Homo sapiens: one gene and its partner. Each later gene encodes a partner of the first gene's protein in a complex. Links are inferred from orthologs where the notes say so. Each region holds a gene or a part of one and is shown in the gene's direction. Other genes may lie near its edges.

Region 1 (7,483 bases):
TAAATATTACAGTGTAGGTTTCCATGTAATTTTTCACTGTTTATAAATGTTTTCAAATGTTCATTAGACTATATTTTCAGAGATTTGATGATTCTTTTATCAATATGGTCAGAATTATAGCTGGTATTAGTAACACAAATCACTTAAGATGGTAAAGCCTGTAAATATTAAAATGGAAGTTATGGTAAAAACATGATGAATTAATTTATGGCATGTAAACCCTGGATGCCTTTGGGAAATCTGGAAGTGATTTTAATTGGGAAAGAAGCTTCTTTGGAGTTTTCCCATCAGTCAGTATGCTTTTTGGACATAGAATTTAAGGAGTCTAATTGGTAGGATTTCCTACGCAAACTATTTTGCATAGTTAGAATAACATTTATAATGGAGCATCAGATGTGTTATACAAGCTAGAATATTTAGAAATAGATTGAATAGTCCACATGACAAACAATTGTAAGCAAGGAATAGAAATGATACTTACTACAGTAGATTTAGGATGTTTAAAATGTGGTTTTCTATAAACTGGTTCTAATTAAGGACAGAATACTCTGGCAAAAGAGAAAGCAATTCTAACAACACAGGTGGCAATAAAGAGAAGTGAATCGATATTAGGTAAATATAAAGTGAATATAAATATATACTGATATTATAACAGAAATAAGGATAATAGAATGCGTAGGAGTAAAGATTAAGGCACTATATGATGCCACAAATACATTTTATACTAAAGAAAGGCATAATTTTGGATTCTGCCTCTTAATTTCTCAGGGTCTTTGAAGGATTAAGTGAAATGTAAAATCCTAGACGAATCGTTCCTTTTCCTTTGTATTATAACAGATGAATTAAATACTGCTAAATGCCTTATGGTTCTGTAGAGAAATATACAAATTATCAATGATATTGCTTTATCTATTAAATATTTTCCACCTGATGATAATAAATGCTAAGGCTTGTTTATAAAGGCCAATAGCAAAGATATACAGTAGAAACACATTACTTGAATTTACACTGATTTTATTTAGTTCCTGAAAGGAATATACTATCTATGAAATATAGAAGTTTAAAATTTAAAGGACAGTATATATGAAGTAATTCATAATATAGTTGGTAAAAATTGTTTGATAGAATATTTATTATTTTGAAATAATTGATTGCAGGTTCTTCATTGTTTGATACATGTATTGTTAGAATGAAATCTTGCCTTGTTTCTCGCATAGTGTTAACATACTGTAAGGTACTATACCTTAAAGGGTATTCTTGAAAACCTAAGTCTTTGTAACAGTGACAGTAGTCATCCCAATTTCCGATTATAACCACTGTTCCATTTTTATAGTGGTTATAATCTTAAATCCAGTACAAATCGACATCTACAGTATGATTCACATATTTCTGGCAAATTTGATAATCTCTAGAACAATGTGATTGCTGGATTTAACATTGAATTCAATTTTCCTAAGGTATGATTTTTAAAAAGTACTTAGATGGCTTGCTAGTGACTAATTATTAATAGCCTTTCTCTTGGAACTGAATTCCATAATAGGAAGTAAATATTCTTATTTATCTGTAAGATAAAATATAATCCCCTGTTATAAAGACTCATTGTATTCACTTTATACTCTACTTACTTTCAAAAATTCATGTTAATTCCTTAAGATAGGAATGAAATATTCCTTTTTTTAACTTCTATCCTAAAATACTCAGTTTAACATTAAATGTATTATGGGAAATCTTTAATGCATTAAGCTTTCATGTAGGCTTATTAACTTGATGAAGTTGTGGTATCAATATTGTAAAATCATAGTACCTAAGAAATGGAAGATGGTTTTAGAATCATTCACCCTCTTAAGAACAAGGAAGGTGTCTTAATCATTTCTGCATTCCTAATTTATAAGATAGTGTGTGGCATTTATTTCTTAACCTAATATATGTTTGTTAAAGTAATATATAAGTTAACATGTAAAATCTATGCCTCTCAATTTAAAGCACAAACTCCTAAGGATTTAATGGTTATATAGTTCGAAATAACTGGCTAATTACAAAAGTATGACTAAGAACTGTAGATTCCTTAAATCTAGTGTTCTCTTCATGATAGACTACTATCATGCTAGAGTTTTTTTAGTCAAATGTATAAAAGTAATGACAAAAGTGAAATGAATGATGCACAGTGCACACACACATATACACAGAAACATAGGGTGTTGGGTACTATAAATTTTTTTGAATGTTTTGTTTTGATTGTAAATTTTAAACTGTAGGAATCTATGGTTTTATGTAACAATTGTAATATAAAAGATTTGTAATTAAGTCCTAAGTGTTTCATATATAAATGTAAATGCTAAAAAATATCACATCCACTTTCTTAATTATAAAACATTTAAGGGATAGACTAATTTTTTCACTTTCTACAGTACTTATTCCTTTATAGTTCCAGGTTAGAGTTTATCCTGGCTTTGTACTTACATGAGATTTGAAAGGTAGAGGATATACAGAAGCCATTATTGTCAAGCATTAGTTGTTGGCTAGCAGATGGGCAGATATAAAAGTCTTAGTGGCTCCTGGGCAAACTCCTGTTAATTGGCCACCCTGATGCTGTAGGTGGTACAGGTAATTGCTGGCAGATTTCCATAGACTCCTGACATTCACAGCAGCTTTCTAGTGTCCATTTTGAGAACCCTTGTCTTTGCATCTTCAGGCTAAGATCATCAGCATTAACTTTCTTGGCCTTTATTCCTGTCGCCCATTCAACTGTTATGTAGCTTCTGGTTCCTGAATTAAAACCCTTCCTACCTGGAAAACCTAGACTAACTTCTGTTTTCGTTAGTGAACCTAATTGGTAGATTGGCAGACTGTGTTCCAAATATGAGGGGAAAAGGGATTCTGTGACCCGGGGGAGATATTAGAGAAGAGTGCTGATTTTGCCAGGTTGGGTCATTCTACTGTATCCTTTATCTGCTCTTGCTTTTGGGCTAAGAAACCATTGACTAAGAAATTCACAACTGAACTGTTGAATCTTAGTCATCTTTAACTTCAGCTGACTTCACTCTTTCATTGTCTCCTGTTCATGTCCTGGCAAAATCCCCATAATAGTTTTCTAAACCTTTTCTGTTATCTTCAGGATTCTAATCCTATTGCTTTTCATGATTAATAGTTGATATTATCTAAGTTTATTCCAGAGAAAAGGTTAGTGTGAATATTTTGTTAACAGGGTATCATGTCTTATTGCAAGGTTCACTAGGTTTTACCAGTGTTAGAAGGGTAAGTTGAGAAGGTAATAAGCAGTTTCTTCCTCTGAGACTATAAGGAAATATGAGGGGTCAGATGTGGAGACTTAGTAGAATAATATCACCAAGCTGTTCTTAATCTAAATGAAGATGGAATAAAAATAGCAGTTTTTTCTGATTTCTAGGATTTTTGTAATGAATAAATCATTATTATTTGTCTATTTTTATTGCTTATCTCAAGTTAGATCAATAAAAAAGGGTTGGAGACATGATGATAAAATGAAAATTTAGGTGAACCAATACTAGGAATGATCTAGAAGATGATGAATGAAAAATGATTTTTAAGAGCCAGCACTTAATTTTAGTCAGAAAGTATTCAACTCTTGAGCCAAATCAGTTTGGCTTCATTACATTTTCAGGTAACTTTCATATCAGCATGTTAGGTATAGAGAAGATGGAGGAAATATTTTTCTAAGCTGCTGAATAATAGTTGGTGGGTAGTGGAAGTGTACGTAGCAAACCAAGCAAGGAAATTAGAATAAATGCTAGTTTATAGCAGTGGAATATCATATTATCTAATTTTCAAGCATAAGCATATTCCAGATATAGTGTTGCAGGCACTTAATAACCACAACAAAGTACTTATTTGAACTGAATATAATGAATACTACTAAAACCATTGTTACGCTATGCCTTTAAAATGAAATTTTAAAAAGGCAAAAGGACTACTTAGTTATCCATCAACCTGCCAGCAAATCAATGAAATGTAAAATTGATAAACTTTTGCTCTTCTCATTGTTCTTTTCCTTTGGTTACTTAGGAAAAGAAGCCCATCTGTGTCCAGAGATCAGAATAGAAGATACGACCAAAGGGAAGAAAGAGAGGAATATTCACAGTATGCTACTTCGGATACCGCAATGCCTAGATCTCCATCAGATTATGCTGATAGGCGATCTCAACATGAACCTCAGTTTTATGAAGACTCTGATCATTTAAGTTATAGGGACTCCAACAGGAGAAGTCATAGGCATTCCAAAGAATATATTGTAGATGATGAGGATGTGGAAAGCAGAGATGAATACGAAAGGCAAAGGAGAGAGGAAGAGTACCAGTCACGCTACCGAAGTGATCCGAATTTGGCCCGTTATCCAGTAAAGCCACAACCCTATGAAGAACAAATGCGGATCCATGCTGAAGTGTCCCGAGCACGGCATGAGAGAAGGCATAGTGATGTTTCTTTGGCAAATGCTGATCTGGAAGATTCCAGGATTTCTATGCTAAGGATGGATCGACCATCAAGGCAAAGATCTATATCAGAACGTAGAGCTGCCATGGAAAATCAGCGATCTTATTCAATGGAAAGAACTCGAGAGGCTCAGGGACCAAGTTCTTATGCACAAAGGACCACAAACCATAGTCCTCCTACCCCCAGGAGGAGTCCACTACCCATAGATAGACCAGACTTGAGGCGTACTGACTCACTACGGAAACAGCACCACTTAGATCCTAGCTCTGCTGTAAGAAAAACAAAACGGGAAAAAATGGAAACAATGTTAAGGAATGATTCTCTCAGTTCAGACCAGTCAGAGTCAGTGAGACCTCCACCACCAAAGCCTCATAAATCAAAGAAAGGCGGTAAAATGCGCCAGATTTCGTTGAGCAGTTCAGAGGAGGAATTGGCTTCCACGCCTGAATATACAAGTTGTGATGATGTTGAGATTGAAAGTGAGAGTGTAAGTGAAAAAGGTAAGCTTTCTAATCATACATTTTGCTGTAATTGATTAGATAAGCGTTTTTTTTAATAGATTGCATTTCTGAGTGAAAATTTAATAGGTATTACTAGTAGCTTTATTTTAAAAGTCTTTTAATGGCATCGAACGTGTGAAGAAAATTTCGTGTTATAAAAAGTATCTTCTGTTGTTCATGTATAAGAACGACAGAATGATGTTCTATTGATTTTTAAAAATTGCCTTCTTGCTTTGTTTCTGAAAGTTTTCTTGTATCATTTGACAGCATATTTCAAAAATATCCATTAACTGTAGTTTTTAAAATAACATTTATTTTTTGTCTCCTTATAAAAGTAACAATATATTCACTATAAAACATCTGAAAAAGTCCTCAAAGCATAAAGAATGAAATGCAAGTTATCCATATTTCTTCCCCCAGATATAACCATTGTTAACCTTTTATTGTATTTTCTTTCTTTTTTTTCCTATGCATGTATGGTTTATAGATTTATAAAATTGATATCATGCTATATATAATTTTGTATACTGATGCTTTCAATTGTTATCACATCATAAATGATTTTTTTCAAGCCATTAGATGTTCTTTAGTAATACGTTTTAAATAGCTACACTAATATTCTATCATAAGATTATACCACAACTAAATATTTCTTTATTTGGGGCATTGCTGTGGCTTCCATTTGCCAATGTAAAAATTATAATGGTTATCTTTATACATACTTTTTGCCTACATCTCTTGAGTATTTCAAAAATATATATTTGTACTTTGGATTATTTTAAGCTTTAATTCAGATTACCAAATTGCTTTCCAAAAAGGTTGTAACATGCTTTACTCTTATCAGATGTACTTGAGTTTTCAGTCTCAATTCACCAAATCTTTGCCAATTGAATAGCCACAAAAATGCTCTCTTTGTCATTTTAATTTGAATTTGATTGTAAAGTTGAATGTTTTATATGTTTATCTGCATTTGATATCTTCTGTGAATTATCTGTTCATTCCTTTAATTCCTTCTGCCCATCTTTCTCTGGGTATTAGTTTTTCTATTATTGATTTATAAGCACTTTTTATATAGTTAGGATTTTACCCCATTTAACTATTATTTGCCAAATACATTTCTCATTTTAATGTTTATCTAGTATTTTAATTTGTTTATTTGAAACTGTTGAATTTAATGTATCTAAACCTTTGTATTTGGTGATTTTTTTCCATTATTTTCATCTTTAAAAGCTCTTTATTCGCTTCCAAATCAATTAAGTATTTAACTGTATATTATCTCATTTTTAAATTATTTTTAACCATTAACTTTTTTAACATTCTGGAATTTATTTTGGTGTATGACAAAAATATACCAGATGGATGAGTATCATACCAACCTCCTACCCCCAATTTCCTTATACTATTTGATGAATAGTCCATTTTTTGTTTATCGAATCAACAGGAATCACTAAGGGAATTCAAGAAAGGAGCTAGGTATGAAATGATTATGGAATCATTTTATACTGTACCAAAATAATTAGTTAGAACACATTAATTGTTTCCATTCTGAATTAAAAATAAAAAATGTGATATAAAAATAACTAACAAGAAATGAGGGGCCCACAGGAAGAGCCATAAAATTTTACTGAGTAACATAAGGAAGATGTGAGTAGCGGTTCATTTCATGTTCCTAATTAGGAAGGCTAAGTAGTATAAAGATGCAAGCTCTTTGCAGATAATCTCTTGGAGTTAATAACATTCTAGACATAATACCAGTTGGACCCTTGAAGTATTTTATTTCTAAAGTTAGTCTGGAAGAAACAACACTTGTAAGAATAATTAAGAGTAGTGAGGGAGAACTCACTTGACCAGATAGTATAAAATGACAATAATTGAAAATGTGATACTGATAGAAAATTTGGACATATCGGTGAAATTCTAATATAATATATTAAAACTAATAAATGATAAAATATAAAATGCACAACAATCCAAGTGGGGAGAGATAAACTATTCAACAAATAGGGTTGGGGAAATGCATATGAAGTTTTAAAAAATCACATTAGGGATATTTCATATTTGTTGCATTCAAATGATAAATACTAAGAAAAACTTGCTTATTAAAATATAGTTATCTATAAAGAGCAACTATCGATCTTAATTATTTTTTTTATGGAGTATATAGAGATTTTATTTTCCCTAAGCTGTAGTACTTCCTTAAGTATATTTAATAATCTTTAGTTTGGTCATTTTTCACATTTGCCAGAGTATATCATGATACTAAAAAATAAGAAAAAAGATAGTTTTGTTATCTTTGGTGGTTTGGTTTAGATTCTATCTGGTAGGTATTTCTATTATCCTTTGCTAAAGTAATGCCTTCACTTGTACCACATAAAAATGTAAAAAACTCAGAAATGTATCAATTCAGTGCTTGAAAGCTTTTTTATATGTGATATCTTTATTTTAGTATTCTGAAGTATCCACTTATAAAAGTCTCATATAAGTAAAAAGGTATATATGAGTTAAATTAAAATCCT
Region 2 (8,012 bases), on another chromosome or scaffold:
GCCGAGTGCAGTGGCTCACACCTGTAATCCCAGCACTTTGGGAGGCCGAGGTGGGTGGATCACTTGAGGTCAGGAGTTGGAGACCAGCTTGGCCAACATGGTGAAACCCTGTCTCTACAAAAAATACAAAAATTAGCCGGGCATGATAGAGAGTGTACCTGTAATCCCAGCTACTCGGGAGGCTGAGGCAGGACAATCCCTTGAATCTGCGAGACAGGTTACAGTGAGCTGAGATCTCAACACTGCACTCCAGCCTGGGCGACAGAGCAAGACTCCATCTCAAAATGTACCCTGTAACAATATATAAGATGTCAACATTAGTAGAAGCACTCAAGCCTAGATGATAGAGAGAGATTCAGTCTCAAAAAAAAAAAAAAAAAAAAAAAGAGAAAGAAATGGATAAAAGACTTGAACAGGCATTTCACCATAAAAAGAAACCAGTAATCACATAAAAAGTTCAACGTCAAGAGCAATCAGAAAGCAAACCAAAACCCAAATGAGGCACTCCTTCCCTCCCTCCACATAGGCCCAGTGAAAAAACTTGGACAATTCAAAGTGTTGGCAAGAACTTAGAGCCAGGCACGGTACCTCATGCCTGGAATTCCAGCACTTTGGCAGGCCGAGGCAGGAGGATCACTGGAGCTCAGGAGTTTGAGAACAGCTTGGGCAACATAGGGAGACCCCATCTAAAAAAAATAAAATGAGCCAGGCATGGTAGCACAGGCTTGTAGTCCCAGCTCCTTGGGAAGCTGAGACAGGAGGATCGCTTGAGCCCAGGAGGTGGAGACTGCAGTGAGCTGTGATTGCACCATTGCACTCCAGCCTGGGCCTCAGAGTGAGACTATCTCAAGAAAAAACAAAAACCAATAACAAAACAAAAACAAAACATAGAGGAACCGATGATTATACTGTGTTGGTATGATGAAAATCGCCAGACTCCCAATAAAAAACATGACATTATCAGGTGAAGCTGAGCATATATGTATTTTCTTTTCTTTCTTTCCCTCCTTTTTTTTTTTTTTTTTTGAGACAGAGTCTTGCTCTGTTTCCAGGCTAGAGTGCAGTGGCGTGATATCGGCTCACTGCAACTTCCGCCTCCTGGATTCAAGCAATTCTCCTGCCTCAGCCTCCTGAGTAGCTGGGACTACAGGGGTGTGCCATAATGCCTGGCTATTTTTGTGTGTGTTTTTAGTAGAGACAGGGTTTCACCATGTTGGCCAGGATGGTCTCGATCTCTTGACCTCATGATCTGCCCATCTCAGCCTCCCAAAATGCTGGGATTACAGGCATGAACCACCATGTCTGGCCACATATATGTATTTTCTGACCCAGCCATCCTTACTCATGTGTGCCAGCACACAAGTCTGAAGTCTGAGGATGGTCATAAAAACTTTTTTTTGTAATAAACCTGAGCTTGAAACAACCCAAAAGTCCATGACCTGGAGAACAGATGAATAGCCAATAGAAGATTCATACAAAGGAATACTATGCAGCAGTAAAAAATGCAAGCCTTACAGCCACATGCAGCGATATGGATGAATATCAGCAGAATCACATTGAGCAAACAAAACAGATTAGCAGTCCAGGTGCTGTGGCTCACACCTGTAATCCCAGCACTTTGGGAGGCTGAGGTGGGTGGATCACCTGAGGTCAGGAGTTTGAGACCAGCCTGGCCAACATGGTGAAACCCTGTCTCTACTAAAAATACAAAAATTATCACTGCAACCTCCATGGCCAGGCATAGTGGCTCATGCCTGTAATCCCAGCATTTTGGGAGGCCGAGATGGGCAGATCACCTGAGGTCAGGAGTTCGAGACCAGCCTGACCAACATGGAGAAACCCCGTCTCTACTAAAAATTACAAAAAAATTAGCTGGGCATGGTGGCACATGCCTGTAATCCCAGCTACTCAGGAGGCTGAGGCAGGAGAATTGCTTGAACCTGGGAGGCGGAGGTTGCGGTGAGCTGAGATCGTGCCATTGCACTCCAGCTTGGGCAACAAGAGCAAAACTCTGTCTCAAAAAAAAAAAAAAAAAAAAAAAAAAAAAAAAAGCCAGGCAAGGTGATGGGCGCCTGTAATCCCAGCTACTCGGGAGGCTGAGGTAGGAGAATCGCTTGAACCTGGGAGGCAGAGATTGCAGTGAGCGGAGATTGTGCCACTGCACTCCAGCCTGGGTGACAGAGTGCAGCTCTGTTTCAAAAAACAAACAAACAAACAGATTAGTAAAGAATGTGAACAAAGTCAAATGAGGTGGCTCATGCCTGTAATTTCAGCACTTTGGGAGTCCAAGGCAGGCAGATTGTTTGAACCCCAGAGTTCAAGACAAGCCTGGGCAACATAGTGAGACCCTCATCTCTAATTAGCCAGGCATGGAGGTGCATGCCTGTTGTTCCAGGTACTTGGGAGGCTGAGACAGGAGGATTGTCTGAGCTCAGGAGCTCACACCACTGTACTACAGCCTGGGTGACACAATGAGACCTTGTCTCAAAAAAATAGAAACATGCAAGAGGTAACCATGTATTGTTTGCTAAGGAGCATGTGGTAAACTATAAGGAAAAGGAAGAAAATGAAAAACAAAATTTGTGATAGTTCTTCCATCTGCAGGGAAGGATTATGAGATTGGGGAGAGGCACATGGGGGTCTTTTATTGTGATGGTATTTTTTTTTTTTTTTGAGACGGAGTCTCTCTCTGTCACCCAGGCTGGAGTACAGTGGCCCGATCTCGGCTCACTGCAAGCTCCGCCTCCCGGATTCACGCCTTTCTCCTGCCTCAGCCTCCTGAGTAGCTGGGAATACAGGCGCCCGCCACCACGCCCGGCTAATTTTTTGTATTTTTAGTAGAGACGGGTTTTACCGTGTTAGCCAGGATGGTCTCGATCTCCTGACCTTGTGATCACCCCGCCTCAGCCTCCCAAAGTGCTGGTATTATAGGCGTGAGCCACCGAGCCCGGTCGATGGTAATTTTTTTTATCCAAGCCTGCTCCTCATAGTTTATCTACTCATTGATGTTTAATAAAACATCAATGTTTTATTGATTATCAATGTTTAATAAAACATCTACTCATTGATGTTTAATAAAAATTTAAGACCAGGCATGGTGGCTCATGAGCCTGTAATCCCAACATTTTGGGAGGCTGAGACGGGAGGATCACTTGAGCCCAGGAGTTTGAGACAGCCTGTGCGACATGGTGAAACTCTGTCTCTACAAAAAATACAAAAATTAGCTGTGCTGATTTTTTTAAAAATTTAAAGCAGTGACAGATACAAACATGGTTACTATTAGGCATTAAGATTACAACTGGGGCCAGGCGCGGTGGCTCATTCGTGTAATCCCAGCATTTTGGGAGGCCACGGTGGGTGGATCACTTGAGGTCAGGAGTTTGAGACCAGCCTGGCCAACATGGTGAAACCCCATCTCTACAAAAAATACAAAAAAATTAGCTGGATGTGGTGGCGAGCGCCTGTAATCCCAGCTACTCAGGAGGCTGAGGCAGGAAGATCACTTGGAGGTTGAGGTTGCAGTGAACTGAGATGGTGCCACTGCACTCCAGCCTGGGCCACAGATTGAGACTACACCTCCAAAAAAAAAAAAATTACAACTGGTTTCACATGTTAACTCATGTAATACCTCCAGCAACCTTGTGAGGCAGGACTTGTTATCATATTCATTCTACAGGTGCGGAAACTGAGGCACGAGGAGGTCACAAGACCTGCCCAAGGCCATGCTTGTGATGAGAGACAGAGTTTGGTTTTGAACAATGGCCTCACTCAACTCCATGCACATTCTGCATTTATGAAGCTCTTTCATGTGGGCTGGGGGCAGGAGACCCTGTGGGGCTCAGCCTTTCATGCTAGTTTAGGTGCCAGTGATACAGCGAGCAGGTTGCAGGGCAAGGGGCCCACATGGAGCTGCCCAGTTTGATATGTGGGGAGGGGGCCAGGCGCAGTGGCTCAGGTCTGAATCCCAGCACTTTGGGAGGCCGAGATGGGCGGATCCCCTGAGGTCAAGTGTTCAAGACCAGGCTGGCCAACATGGTGAAACCTCGTCTCTACTAAAAATAAAAAAAATAAAATAAAAAAAAAAAGCTGGGCATGGTGGCATGCGCCTGTAGTCCCAGCTACTCGGGGAGGCTGAGGCAGGAGAATCTCTTGATCCCAGGAGGCAGAGGTTGCAGTGAGCCAAGATTGCGTCACTGCATTCCAGCCTGGGCTGCAGAGGGAGACTCCATCTAAAAAAAAGAAAAGTGGGGAGGAGTGGCAGAGTTTCGTTCGGGTCAGGGCCCAATCAGAGGAAGGGATAGGGGCTGGGGGAGTCCAGAGAGGAGAAACAAAGGCTCAGCTTGGGGCAGTCAGGGAAGCCTTCCTGGAGGAGAGGATATTCAGACAAGACATTGATGGATGAAAAGGAGTTCAGAGTGTGGGCAAGGACCCATGGGCTGGATGGCTTAGAGACATAGAGAGAGACCTAGACAGGATGCAGTAGAGCTGCAAAAAGACTTTACAGAGAGAGGCTAAGAGACACATGACTGAGAGAGCAGTGGACAGAGTCAGAGGAACAGAGACCCAGGGAGAGAAAGAGACCAGGCAGTAGAGTTAGAGAGACAGAGACGTAGAGACAGAGGAAGAGAGATACTCAGAGAACAGGACCATCTGCCCGGTGCTGGTGCCGGGCGTACACACAAGAGCTTGCATTTGCCTGTACTTGCTTGAGTATTGCAGGGAGGCGTTTGCCCAGGTTACCAGGGCAGGAATGTCCATGCATGGGTGGCGGGGGCACGTGCACCATTTCAGTGCAGGTGAGGGTCTGCACAGGAGGAAACCTGCTTGGGGGCCGCCGTCGCCCCTTGTCCCCCTGCAACGAGGAGGTGTGGGGCGAGGCGCCCCTTCCCGGAGCCAGGCCCTTTAACGCCCCCCCAGCCCGCAGCGCCCCCGCCCCATCAGGCGTCCCTGGGCTCCGCCTGCCCGCCCCGCATCAGCGCCACGTCAGGCGCTGTCCGCGCCCCCGGTGCTGAACCAAGATGGCCGGTGGCGGCCGGGCCCCGGCGTGAGCCAAGCGCGGGCTGCAGCCGGGAGATGCCCCAGCCCAGCGGCCGCTGAGCCCGACCCGACAGAGCCGGCCCGGCCGCCTCCGGCCCACCTGCGAGCTCGGAGACATGTCTCTGCTTTGCGTTGGAGGTAGGAGGCGAGGCTGGGGGTCGGGGGACCCGTGTGGACGCGGGCTGGGGTCGGGGTCCGCGTGGATGCGGCTCCCAGGGGGTTCCTGGGGGGTGACCCGAGTCCAGGTGGCTGGACTTTTGAGAGGGGTAGCCCTTGTCGACGCAGCTGGGCCCCGGAGGGGGTGATCCGTGTAGACGCGGCAGGGCTCTCGGGGGTCCTGGTGGCCGCTGCTGGAGGGGTCGTGTGGACGCGGCTGAACGCGGAGGCCCGTGTGGACGTGGACGGGTATCCGGGGTTCTACCCGGAAACGATCTAGACTGGGGCGTCTGTGTAGACCAGGTTTTTAGAGGGTCAGTGAGGAAGAGTCTGGGCTCGGTAGTTTGATTGAAGCCTGCAGGGGTGCTTGGAAGGGGTCTGGTGTTGTGGGCTGGGTTACGGGTCCTCATGGACGCGGACCCGGCTGGAAATTCGAAGGAGAGTGCGGTGGGAGGGTTCTCCAAGCCGTGGGGATGTAAGATATAGGTAGAGGGGCTTGGCCATCAGGGCATCCACGAGTTCTAGGACTCTCCCAGCCCTAGGTGTAAAGAGGACTGGAGTGGGGGGAGTGTGGAGACAGGAGACCCCTCCCAGCGTCCAGAGAGGGCTGTGACTGGAGGTCTGGGGGCGCTTTTCCAGTTAACTCTTTGGCCTCCCGAGTGAGGGGGTTGGAGGAATGTCCAGAAGGTCTTCCCGCTCCCTGCCCCCTCCGGTTCTCCCAAACACGTTTCAGGGCCTTCTCGGCAGGGAGCCTACTTCTTGGAAGAGCAATGTCTCCTGGTCCCCCTCCTGGCCCATCCTCACCTCACCCACTTTGCACTGGAGAGAGGGAGGGAGGGAGACGTGAGGTGGGGGGGGAGCTATTTTGGGGCCAGAACGCCATCTGCACAGAGGCCCACGCCCAGGCCCACGCTCTGCGTTGGGGTTGGAGGAGGGAGGGAGACGTGGGAGGGGCATGACCCCCCACCCCACACCTTTATGGCTCTGGGGTCGTGGGGAAGCCAGCCCAACCGAACCCAGGCGTTCTGGGCACTCCCGTTTGAGAAATCAAACTCTGGGAGACCTTGGGCGGCAGGGGTGGATGTGGACCGCCGTTCCACGCCTACAGAGCTCTGAACCCCTGGTTCTTAAGGACTGGGGTCCCCCCGTCACTCCCACCCATTTCAAGAAGGCTGGGGTGGGGGAAGGGGTGTGTCTGCCAAGCCTGAGACTGCAGGCTTCGGGAGACCTCGGGCGACAGGAAGCGTGCGTGTGCTGAACTCCTGCTGCCTGGACACAGGGTGGGCAGGCCGGGGAGCCGGGAACCGCCCCCGCCGCCCCTCCTCCTCCCTCCCCTCCCCCTCGGCCGATTCATTCACAAACCCTGCCCCGCCCGCCCGCTCCCCGCCGCGGCAGCTTCCGAGTGCAAATCCGGCCGGGCTGGGCCGGCGTGGACGCGGGTGTTCTTAAAGGGACAGGGGCCTACTTTCTCTAAGCTCGTTTCTGCTGGACGGGGCTGGGGGTGGTGGAAGAAGGGTCCCTAGAGTCAAAGGTCAACTCCTCCATCCCCTAGCCTCCAGGCCTATGGAGTTAGGGGAGTAGGGAAGTGAAGGAGACCCCTAGGCGACCCCCACCGCCTAGGCCTGAGGACGGAATGGGAGGAGAACTTGAATGTCCAGACCCCCTACTGACCTCTCCCCCTGCTCTAAGTAGCCGGGCTCTTAAAGGTGGCACTGGAGGAGGTTCCGACGTGGGTGTTCTTGGCTGACTCCTCTATCCTCTCTCTTCTCCCCCCAGCATCCCGCCCCACCCCGCCTCACATCCTCCAAGTTGGGCTTCTCTGGAAGGTTTGCCTAGTGGAGTGGGGGGGGGGGGGGGGGGGCGGGGATCTCACCCTTAACTCTGACGCAAACAGGAGGCTCGGCTGCGGGGGTGGCATTAAGGGGGGGCAGCAGGAGGCAAGAGGGATGAGGCTTCCAGAAACAGAGACGTTGGGGGAGGACTGTGCTGGATTCTGTGGACTTTACAGGGAGGGGCCCGGCTGAGTGGAGAGGAATCGCTGGGAGGGGCAAGGCTGGGGAAGAGGTTGACAGGGGTGGGAGGTAAGGCCCTCAGGTGTAAAGGGAGGTGTGAGGTTGGAGTGAGGAGGAGTAGGAGGCAGGGAGGGGTGGGGAGAGGGAGAAGTGCTGGGTGAGGCCAGTCTCCCAGGGAGAGGTGGGATGGTGCCCAGAGAGGGGAGGGGCTGGGATGGCTGAGCACGAGAGATGTTGGGGTGGGCTTGGCAGGAGTGAAGCTAGGCTGAGATGGGTTGCCGTGTTGCCTGAGCTCAGCTGAGGAAATACCTGTCCCCCCTCCCCTCCACCGGGGACCCACAGGCGTTTGCCAATCCCTACACACATTCATACCCAGACTTGTTCCTGTGTGGACACAAATGCTTAGGATGTATGAAGGCTCTACGCAGACCATGTGCCTGGGAAGGCACATTCCGTAGGCACACGTGTGTACTCAAATGCCTGTGTGAACACAAGCATACACGTGTATATAGGACACAGTCTGCCGCTACAGATATAGTCCCAGCAACACACGTGTGAGTGTGTGTGTCTGCCAGCACGCATATAGATGTATCCACGTGTCTGATGAATGCTCACAATATACATGTCACATAAAGATCCACCCATGTCCAGCCGAGCGCGGTGGCTCAGGCCTGTAATCTCATCACTTTGACTTTGGGAGGCCAAGGTGGGCAGATCACTTGAGGTCAGGAGTTCAAGACCAGCCTGGCCAACATGGTGAAACTTTGTCACTGCTAAAAAATAAAAAAAATTAGCCAGGTGTGGTGG

The links.
Region 2: the proteins of RIMS2 (region 1) and UNC13A are in contact, whole or in part, in a crystal structure (PDB 2CJS), measured with the Rattus norvegicus proteins. The link is inferred for Homo sapiens from one-to-one orthologs. Residues at the interface, in XP_063118965.1 of Rattus norvegicus: Asp102, Gly103, Cys104, Ser109, Gln112, Val123, Leu125, Ser127, Asn128, Lys129, Val134, Met135, Trp136; in NP_074052.2 of Rattus norvegicus: Tyr23, Ile36, Trp65, Leu69, Ile70, Trp71, Asp72, Thr73, Met74.

The regions. Positions count from the first base shown.
Region 1 is NC_000008.11:103,881,257-103,888,739, forward strand, and holds part of RIMS2 (regulating synaptic membrane exocytosis protein 2), read left to right. Parts: intron 1-4,041; coding exon 4,042-4,967; intron 4,968-7,483. UniProt on the Homo sapiens protein: Rab effector involved in exocytosis. May act as scaffold protein. Plays a role in dendrite formation by melanocytes.
Region 2 is NC_000019.10:17,685,341-17,693,352, reverse strand, and holds the start of UNC13A (protein unc-13 homolog A), read left to right. Parts: upstream 1-4,998; 5' UTR 4,999-5,153; coding exon 5,154-5,175; intron 5,176-8,012. UniProt on the Homo sapiens protein: Plays a role in vesicle maturation during exocytosis as a target of the diacylglycerol second messenger pathway.